Linked DNA regions of Homo sapiens: region 1 is linked to region 2. The links come from fine-mapping of genetic effects on gene expression. A gene starts in region 2. The other region holds a variant in brackets. All regions are shown on one strand. Distances are from middle to middle. Region 1 overlaps SAE1 (SUMO1 activating enzyme subunit 1). Region 2 holds the start of BBC3 (BCL2 binding component 3).

The links. PIP is the estimated chance that this variant, and not a neighbour inherited with it, causes the effect.
Region 1: its variant is the best candidate, but not a certain one, in a credible set for the expression of BBC3 in sun-exposed skin (GTEx, PIP 0.69).

The regions. Positions count from the first base shown.
Region 1 is chr19:47,191,475-47,195,684 of GRCh38, reverse strand. The region is part of intron 6 of SAE1 (SUMO1 activating enzyme subunit 1); the gene reads right to left. Among named protein-coding and RNA genes, the nearest start is that of MIR3190, 33 kb to the left of the region's middle. The variant G/A (reference allele first, on the strand shown) is at 2,316.
Region 2 is chr19:47,228,918-47,233,092 of GRCh38, reverse strand. BBC3 (BCL2 binding component 3) reads left to right here and starts at 1,894. Exons shown (of 4, transcript NM_014417.5): 1 at 1,894-2,164. RefSeq lists enhancers at 358-627, 54-677, 1,387-1,506 and silencers at 1,647-1,876, 2,017-2,736.

The sequences.
Region 1 (4,210 bases), 37 kb after region 2:
AGGGGAAGGGAAAGGGAAAGGGGAAGGGACCTAGAAGAGAGATGATAAGGAGTGGGAGGTACACATTCTAGGCAGGACCAGTTTAAAGCCTGCTTTAGCCAGAAGGGCCAGCCATATACTTAGACCCATCAAACAGGAAGGTCATTACAAACAAAACTTCCTTTACTATGAAAACTATCTCAATCCCCATAAATGGATGTTTAATTTTGGTTGTGAACCAGAGGAAAGGTTCAGATGATGGCTGTGAGTCAGAACTACTGTGTAAGAAGACCCCAACAAGGCTATAACTTTTATCCCAAATAAAGACAAATAGGAGCAAAAGACTAATTAGGCTGGGTGCAGTGGCTCACGCCTGTAATCCAAGCATTTTGGGAGGCCAAGGCGGGTGGATCATCTGAGGTCAGGAGTTCGAGACCAACCTGGCCAACATGGTGAAACCCGGTCTCTACTAAAAATACAAAAATTAGCCAGGCGTGGTGGCAGGCACCTGTAGTCCCACTTAGTCAGGAGGCTGAGGCAGGAGAATCGCTTGAACCCGGGAGGCAGAGGTTGCAGTGAGCCGAGATCGTGCCACTGAACTCCAGCCTGGGCAACAGAGTGAGACTTCATCTCAGAAAAAAAAAAAAAAAGACTGGCCAGGTGTGGTGGCTCACGTCTGTAACGTCTGTAATCCCAGCACTTTGGGAGGCCGAGGCAGGCAGATCACGAGGTCAGAAGTTAGAGACCAGCCTGGCCAACATGGTGAAACCCCGTCTCTACTAAAAAAATACATAAATTAGCCAGGCGTGGTGGCGCACGCCTGTAGTCCCAGGTACTTGGGAGGCTGAAGCAGAAGAATCACTTGAACCTGGGAGGTTGCAGTGAGCTGAGATCGCGCCACTGCACTTTGCCTGTGCGATAGAGCGTAACTCCATCTCAAAAAAAAAAAAAAAAAAAAGACTGATTAACATACCAACACCTTCTAACTGCCCACTACACCTTGTCCACAGGTAACCTGCCTGCGGGCGGGCAGGCATTCTTGTTCCCTACATACTGCCCAAGGAAAGGGCACAGCCAGTCTCGAGCCTTGTCTCTAAGGACAATACTCTTTCTCCCACATCACACAGGCTATTTCAGAACAGACACAGAGACATGGATCAGCTTCTAGGCCCAAGCCCTGAGTGCTTTACACCTGGAGAGGGGGCTTTACAGTTTGTCAGTTCTTTCATTGATATCTCTTCCGTATATGTTGATTGAAAAAGTAGACTTATTCAGCAAATTATACTCTCTACCAGGACAAGGGTTCCTACATAAAAATTAAGGTAAATTCAAGTTGCTGTGAGGCTCTTTAAAAAATACAAGTATTTGGTACCCACCCCAGACTGAAGCATCAGAGTCACACTTTTTAAAGACCAAATAGTTTTGGTAATGAGCAGCCTGTGTTGAGGGCCATTCTCTAAGTAGAATTCATTCACTCCACCAGCCTGGCACTTACTTTGTGCCAGACAGACCTGGGTGCTAAAGGTCCAATGGCGAGTGAGTGAATCTTGGTCTCTGCATCTGTGAAGGCAATGGGTGGGAGAACAACTGAGGAGGACACAGTTTTAGAAGCTACAACAGGTGGCTCCACTGAAGCCTGGGAGACGTTCAGAAATGGGTTATAAAGTGTTCCAAGAAGATCTCAAACCACAGATGCCCAGGTAAAAAAAAAAGACACACCCTGCTTCTGGGCTATGCTTTTCTCAGTGCCAATGTCAGACAAAGGCCCCTGGCCTGTATTTCTCTGGTAACTTCCACCTGTCCAGTATAGACGGGGCTCTGCATATCAGAGAAGAGGTAATTTCTTTTTCTTTTTCTTTTCTTTCTTTTTTTTTTTTTTTGAGACAATCTTGCTCTGTTGCCCAGGCTGGAGTGCAATGGCGTGATCTCGGCTCAATGCAACCTCCACCTCCCGGGTTCAAGCCATTCTCCTGCCTCAACCTGCCAAGTAACTGGGGATTACAGGTGCCTGCAGCCACACCCAGCTAATTTTTTGTATTTTTAGTAGAGATGGGGTTTCACTAAAAATAGAAAAATTCCTGGTCTCAAGTTCCTGACCTCAGGTGATCCTCCCACCTTGGCCCCCCAAAGTGCTGGAATTACAGGCGTGAGCCACAGCACCCAGCTGGTAATTTCTTTAAAAAAAAAAAGGAAAGAAAAGAAAAAAGCTCCAGAACACCCATTGACTCTTCTGAATACTGTTTGCTTTCTGAGAATGTTACTCTCTTCTCTTTTTCAAGAACACAGCTTCTGCAACCCTCAATGCTACCTCAACACTTGGCAGTCAACTCAAAGCT[G/A]TAACAATTGGCCAGGTGTGGTGGCTCATGCCTGTAATCCCAGCACTTTCAGAGGCTGAGGCAGGTGGATCACCTGAGGTCAGGAGTTCAAGACCAGCCTGGCCAACACAGCGAAACCCCATCTCTACTAAAAATACCAAAAAAATTAGCCGTGCATGGTGGTGGGTGCCTGTAATCTCAGCTACTCGGGAGGCTGAGGCAGGAGAATCTCTTGAACCCGGGAGGTGGAGGTTGCAGTGAGCCGAGATTGTGCCACTGCACTCCAGCCTGGGCGACAGAGCAAGACTCTGTCTCCAAAAAAAAAAAAAAAAAGGCTGTGACCATCTAGACGATCTGGATGCCAGAGAGCACTGATCTGCTACCACCCAATACTTCTACTTTTGTAGATGTCCTGCTGGTATTCCGATTGTAGTAAATAAATGCAACTGAGTAACCATTTTGGGGCAGGGTAGAGAAATGACTGCAGAAGTGGCAAGTACTGCCTGTTTGGACCAAGCCTCTTTTCAAAAAATGTCCCATAAAATAAAGGAGGCCAGGTGCAGTGGCTCACACCTGTAACCCCAGCACTTTGGGAGGCTAAGGTGGGCAGATCACTTGAGGTCAGGAGTTTGAGACCAGCCTGGCCAACATGGTGAAACCCCATCTCTACTAAAAATAGGAAAATTAGCCGAAAGTGTGGTGGGTGCCTATAATCAAGTACTTGGGAGGCTGAGGCAGTAGAATTGCTTGAACCCAGGATTCAGAGGTTGCGGTGAGCCGAAATCACACCGCTGCACTCCAGTCTGGGCTACAGAGAGAGGCTGTCTCAAAAAATAAATTAAGTAGCCGGGCATGGTGGCTGATGCCTGTAATCCCAGCACTTTGGGAGGCCAAGGCGGGTGGATCACGAGGTCAGGGGTTCAAGACCAGCCTGGCCAAGATGATAAAACCCCATCTCTATTAAAAATACAAAAATTAGCTGGGCATGGTGGCGGACGCTTTTAATCCCAGCTACTCGGGAGCCTGAGGCAGGAGTCGCTCAAACCCAGGAGGCAGAGGTTGCAGTGAGCCGGTATCGTGCCACTGCAATCTAGCCTGGGTGACAGAGCGAGACTCTGTCTCAAAACAACAACGACGACAACAACAACAACAACAAACCAGTAGGAAGGGTGATAATAATTACCCGCTCACCAGGTTATCGTGAAGATCACATGAGTGCTAAGCCATGTGAAATGTTTAGTATAGTGCCTGACACATAGTAGGCACTATAACGCTTTGGGCTTTGGTGCTCCCAAAGCTATATTTTCTTTCTCTCTCTTTTTTCTTTTTTTTTTTTTGAGACAGAGTCTCGCTCTGTTGCCCAGGCTGGAGTGCGGTGGCGCGATCTCGGCTCACTGCAAGCTCCGCCTCCCGGGTTCACGCCATTCTCCTGCCTCAGCCTCCCGAGTAGCTGGGACTACAGGCGGCCATCACCACGCCCGGCTAATTTTTGTATTTTTAGTATAGACGGGGTTTCACCGTGTTAGCCAGGATGGTCTCGATCTCCTGACCTTGTGATCGGCCCGCCTTGGCCTCCCAAAGTGCTGGGATTACAGGTGTGAGCCACCGCGCCCGGCCTATTCCCACAGCTATGTTTTCAAACCAAAAGATGAAAAGCTTTGTGGTAACAGCTGAAAAAAAAAATCACCTCCTCTTGTTGGTCCCTTGTGACAGTTGGTGCTTGTGTCCCAGTAACAAAGAAATAAGATCGCACAAGAGTCATCTAGCACAGGGTTCCTGCCACTGTCCATCACCTTGCACCTGGAAAGCAGGCAGCCTCAGTTTCCACGTGACTGCTGCAAGGCCTCAGACTGTGCCCTATAAGCAGCCCATGCACAGCTTTGCCTCCATCTGCTCAGGCAGTGTTGATACCCTTT
Region 2 (4,175 bases):
AAAAAAAAAAAAAAAAGTAAGATCCATGTAAGTGATGTCATATGTCATAATCCATGGTTTACTCATGACCCACAGTTTGGAAAACACCAGGAAGAAGGAAGGGACAATGAATAATCGGGGAAAGCGAAAGAGGAGGGAAAGTGAAAGAGGGAGGAAAGCTGAGGAGTTCCCAATGTTGCAAATGGGGAGATTTCACGTGAGATATAGATTACCTGCATCTCTTGGGGGAGCTAAGAGTGTGTACTTGGAGGCAGTCAAGTTTGAGAAGTCTGACATCCTTACTCAGCCAGCCCCACACTAGGCACTGGAAGGTGAGTCACTCTGGTGAGGCGATTGCGATTGGGTGAGACCCAGTAAGGATGGAAAGTGTAGAGGAGACAGGAATCCACGGCTTTGGAAAAAGGAAGGACAAAACTCACCAAACCAGAGCAGGGCAGGAAGTAACAATGAGAAACTGAAAAAGAAACGGAATGGAAAGCTATGAGACAGGATGAAATTTGGCATGGGGTCTGCCCAGGCATGTCCATGCCAGGTGCCCAGGGCTGCTTCCACGACGTGGGTCCCCTGCCAGATTTGTGGTGAGTGTGGCCAGGTGTGCATGCTCCGACGTGTGTGCAGTGGGCCAGTTAGCAAGAAGCTGTCACAGGTGTGACTTTGTGACATGTGTGGGTGGTCAGTTTCTTCTATGTCTGATTTGGTTTGTGTCTCTGAATGTCAGTTTCTTTCCTTTATTTTTATTTTTAAGACGGAGTTTGCTCTTGTTGCCCAGGCTAGAGTGCAATGGCACTATCTCGGCTCACTGCAACCTCCGCCTCCCGGGTTCAAGCAGTTCTCCTGCCTCAGCCTCCCAAGTAGCTGGGATTACAGGCATGCGCCACAACGCCCGGCTAATTTTGTATTTTTAGTAGAGATGGGGTTTCATCATGTTGGTCAGGCTGGTCTCGAATTCCTGACCTCAGGCAGTCCACGCACCTTGGCCTCCCAAAGTGCTGGGATTACAGGCATGAGCCACCGTGTCGGGCGAATGTCACTTTCTGATAGTTTTAATGTGTTAGCTGTGAAATTGTGTGAGTGCATTTGTGTATGTCCCTGTGGGAGTGTGATTTGGATTTGGCCGTGTATCCAGGTATCCCTGTAACAGGTGTCTGTGTGTATGTGTGTGTCCCCTGTGCCTATCAGCAAGTTTGTGTTTCCTGATAAGCACTCCGCCTATGTCTGTGTGGTTGCACCACCGTGTGTGTGGTGTGGGTGCCTGTTCGGTAGGGTTGTTTGTGAACACAGTTTGTGGGCCCAGGTGTGATCATCAGTGTGGGTGTTTCTGCAACTGTGTGTGGCCCTGTCATTGTGTCCGTCTGCTTGTCCAGGGGACCCTGTTAGTGAGTCTGTGCATTTCCGTCTGGGTGTGTGTAAGTGTGAGCCCCATCAGTATGTGAGTGTGTGTGCTCATGCCCCTGTCCATGGTGTGGATTTGCGAGACTGTGGCCTTGTGTCTGTGAGTACATCCTCTGGGCTCTGCCTGCACGTGACTTTGTGGACCCTGGAACGCCCGTCGGTCGGTCTGTGTACGCATCGCTGGGGGTGTGGATCTGTGGGTCCCAGTCAGTGTGTGTGTCCGACTGTCCCGGTGTCTGGGCGATCTCCCCACACCCCGCCGCACAGCGCCTGGGTCCTCCTTGCCTTGGGCTAGGCCCTGCCCCGTCCCCCGCTGCAGGGAAACCCCCGGCGCGGAGGTAGGGGGGGGCGCGGCGCGCGCCTGCAAGTCCTGACTTGTCCGCGGCGGGCGGGCGGGGCCGTAGCGTCACGCGGGGGCGGGGCGTGGGACCCGCCGGGCGGGGGCGGGGCGGGGCGGGGCGGGGCGGCTTTGGAGCGGGCCCGGGATCCGCCGGGCGGCCTGAGACGCGGCGCGAGCCACATGCGAGCGGGCGCCTGGCGGCGGCGGCGGCGGCACCAGCGATCCCAGCAGCGGCCACGACGCGGACGCGCCTGCGGCCCGGGGAGCAGCAGCAGCCACAGCCACAGCAGCCGCCACTGCAGTTAGAGCGGCAGCAGCAGCGACAGCCACAGCAGCAGCCGCCGCGGAGAGCGGCGCTCGGCGGGCGCGCCCTCCTGAAGGAAGCCGCCCGCCCCCCACCGCCGCCCCCTCCGGCGTGTTCATGCCCCCGGGGTGAGTGTGCGCGCCCCGAATCCTCTCCGGCGGCGATCGGCCAGGCCGGGTGGACTCCCTGGAGGAGGTGACAGGAGTGCAGGCGGAGAGCAGTGTGGGCGCCCTGCCTCCCCACACCGCGCCTCTCCAAACCCCGCGAGGGACCCTGGGCCAGGGTCGCCGGGTGAGAGGCGGCTCGGCGTTGGGGCGCCGGTCTGGGCGCACAGGTGCCTCGGCGGTCTGGCGGGTTTGTTTACAAACAATGGGGTGCGGGCTCGGCAGCGCCCCCTGGCGGCCAGTGCGGCCCCGGGGAAGAGGGTCGACCCCAGGGGTGCCCCAGCCCCCAAAGTCCGGGAGGGGCGGGGGGGCGGCACGGAGGGGCGGCCACACCCAGGGCGCGCGCCCGCTGGGGGCGGCGACGGGGGGCGGCTCGCGGGCCGTGGAGTCTGCGGCTCCTGCGGGCGGGGGCTGCGCCCCAGCAACAGCCGGTTATTGGCCCCGCGCTCGCCTGGCGGGCGGGGCGGGCGCACGTGGCGGCGGTGGGGGGGGCTGTGACAGCGGAGGGGGGTGTCTGGGACCGCCGTGGGAGCGCGCGTGTGCGGGGTTGTGGATCTGCAGGTGTCTCGCCTGGGTGTGTGCGCGTGTCTGGCTCCGAGTTTGTGCTGGGTTCTGCAGGGAGTGGTGGTGTCGATCCAGAGGAATGTTGGGGTTTCTGACCCGTCGGGGTGTCTGCGTGAGTCCCCGCGCCTGTTTGTGTGGGGTTCTGTCTGTGGGTGCCCTGCTTGTGGGGTGGGTGGACCTGCGTGTGTTGTCGGTGAGAGTTGTCTGTGTGTGCTGTTCCGGGATGATACTGGGGGTCTGTGGTGCCTGCGTGTGCTGGGGTGTGGAGGTTGTAGTGTGTGTGTGTTGCTGGAGTGAGCTGTTTGTGTGTTTATGTGTGTGTCTTGCCCGAGCGTGCGATATGTGTGCTTGTGTCTTGCCTGTGTGTTTCTGTCTTGGCTGAGGCCGTCTCTGTATCTCCGGGGCATGTGTCTTTTGCCCAGCGTTTGTGATGCTGCGCCTGCTAAATGCAAATGTCTGTTTTCTGTCCAGGTGTCTGTGTGAGTTGTCAGGTGTGAGTGTGTGTGTGTATGTATGTGTGTGGTGGGGGGTTGTTTCAGTCTGGGTTTGGCTTGTGTGTCTGGCATCAGCGTCTGGGATTTGAGGACCCAGGATCTGTGGGGTCTATGCAGTGTAGACGGTGGGTGTTGCTGGCAGCCTCTGGATGGGGTTGTGTCTGAGCCTGTGTGTGTGTGTGTGTGTTGGGTCTGAGGGGCTTGTCACTGTGATCGGCTGGCTCATGTGTGTCATGTGGGCTGCGTGTGTGTAGTGTTTATGTCAGTCACGTGAGACCAGTGTTTTCTGTGGGTGCGCTAGGTGTGTGTGCTGCTGGGCTGTGTGGGATTAGAGTTAGCTGTAGGGTGTGTGTGTGTGTGTGTTGCTGACAGTTGGTGATGATGTTTGAGGGTTGCGTGAGGAGGGTGGGTTGGTGTCTGGTGGTGTGTTGAGGTCTGATGGCATGTGTCTGTGTGTGCCTGATCTACGTGTGTCCTGAGAGTTGGTGACATGTGGGTGTGTTTTGGGGGTGTTGATGTATGTGTGTCCGTGGGTGTCTGTTTTGTGTTGATATGTGAGTCCAGAGGTGTGCAGGTCTTATCTCTGGAGTGAGTGTGTGTGTGTGGAGAGGGGCATGTTTGGGAACTGAGGCAGTGCCTAGCTTGTGTGTGTGTGTTTGTGTTTGCAAAGGCTGCATTGTGTTTGCATGTGCCCCTGGGCATATCAACAGTGGGTCAGTGTGTGAGACTTTGACAGTTTGGATGTGTGGGGATGGATTGTGCCAGCCAGTGTGCGCAGTATGTAGAGTGCTTGTGATGGTCTGTCTGGATGCTCCTGCTTTGGTCGGGGGTGTGTGTGTATTGTGTGTACTGAGTAGTGATGTCCGAGACTGGGGCCATCTCAGTGTTTGTGTGCAAGTGGGAGGTGGGGTGGGCGG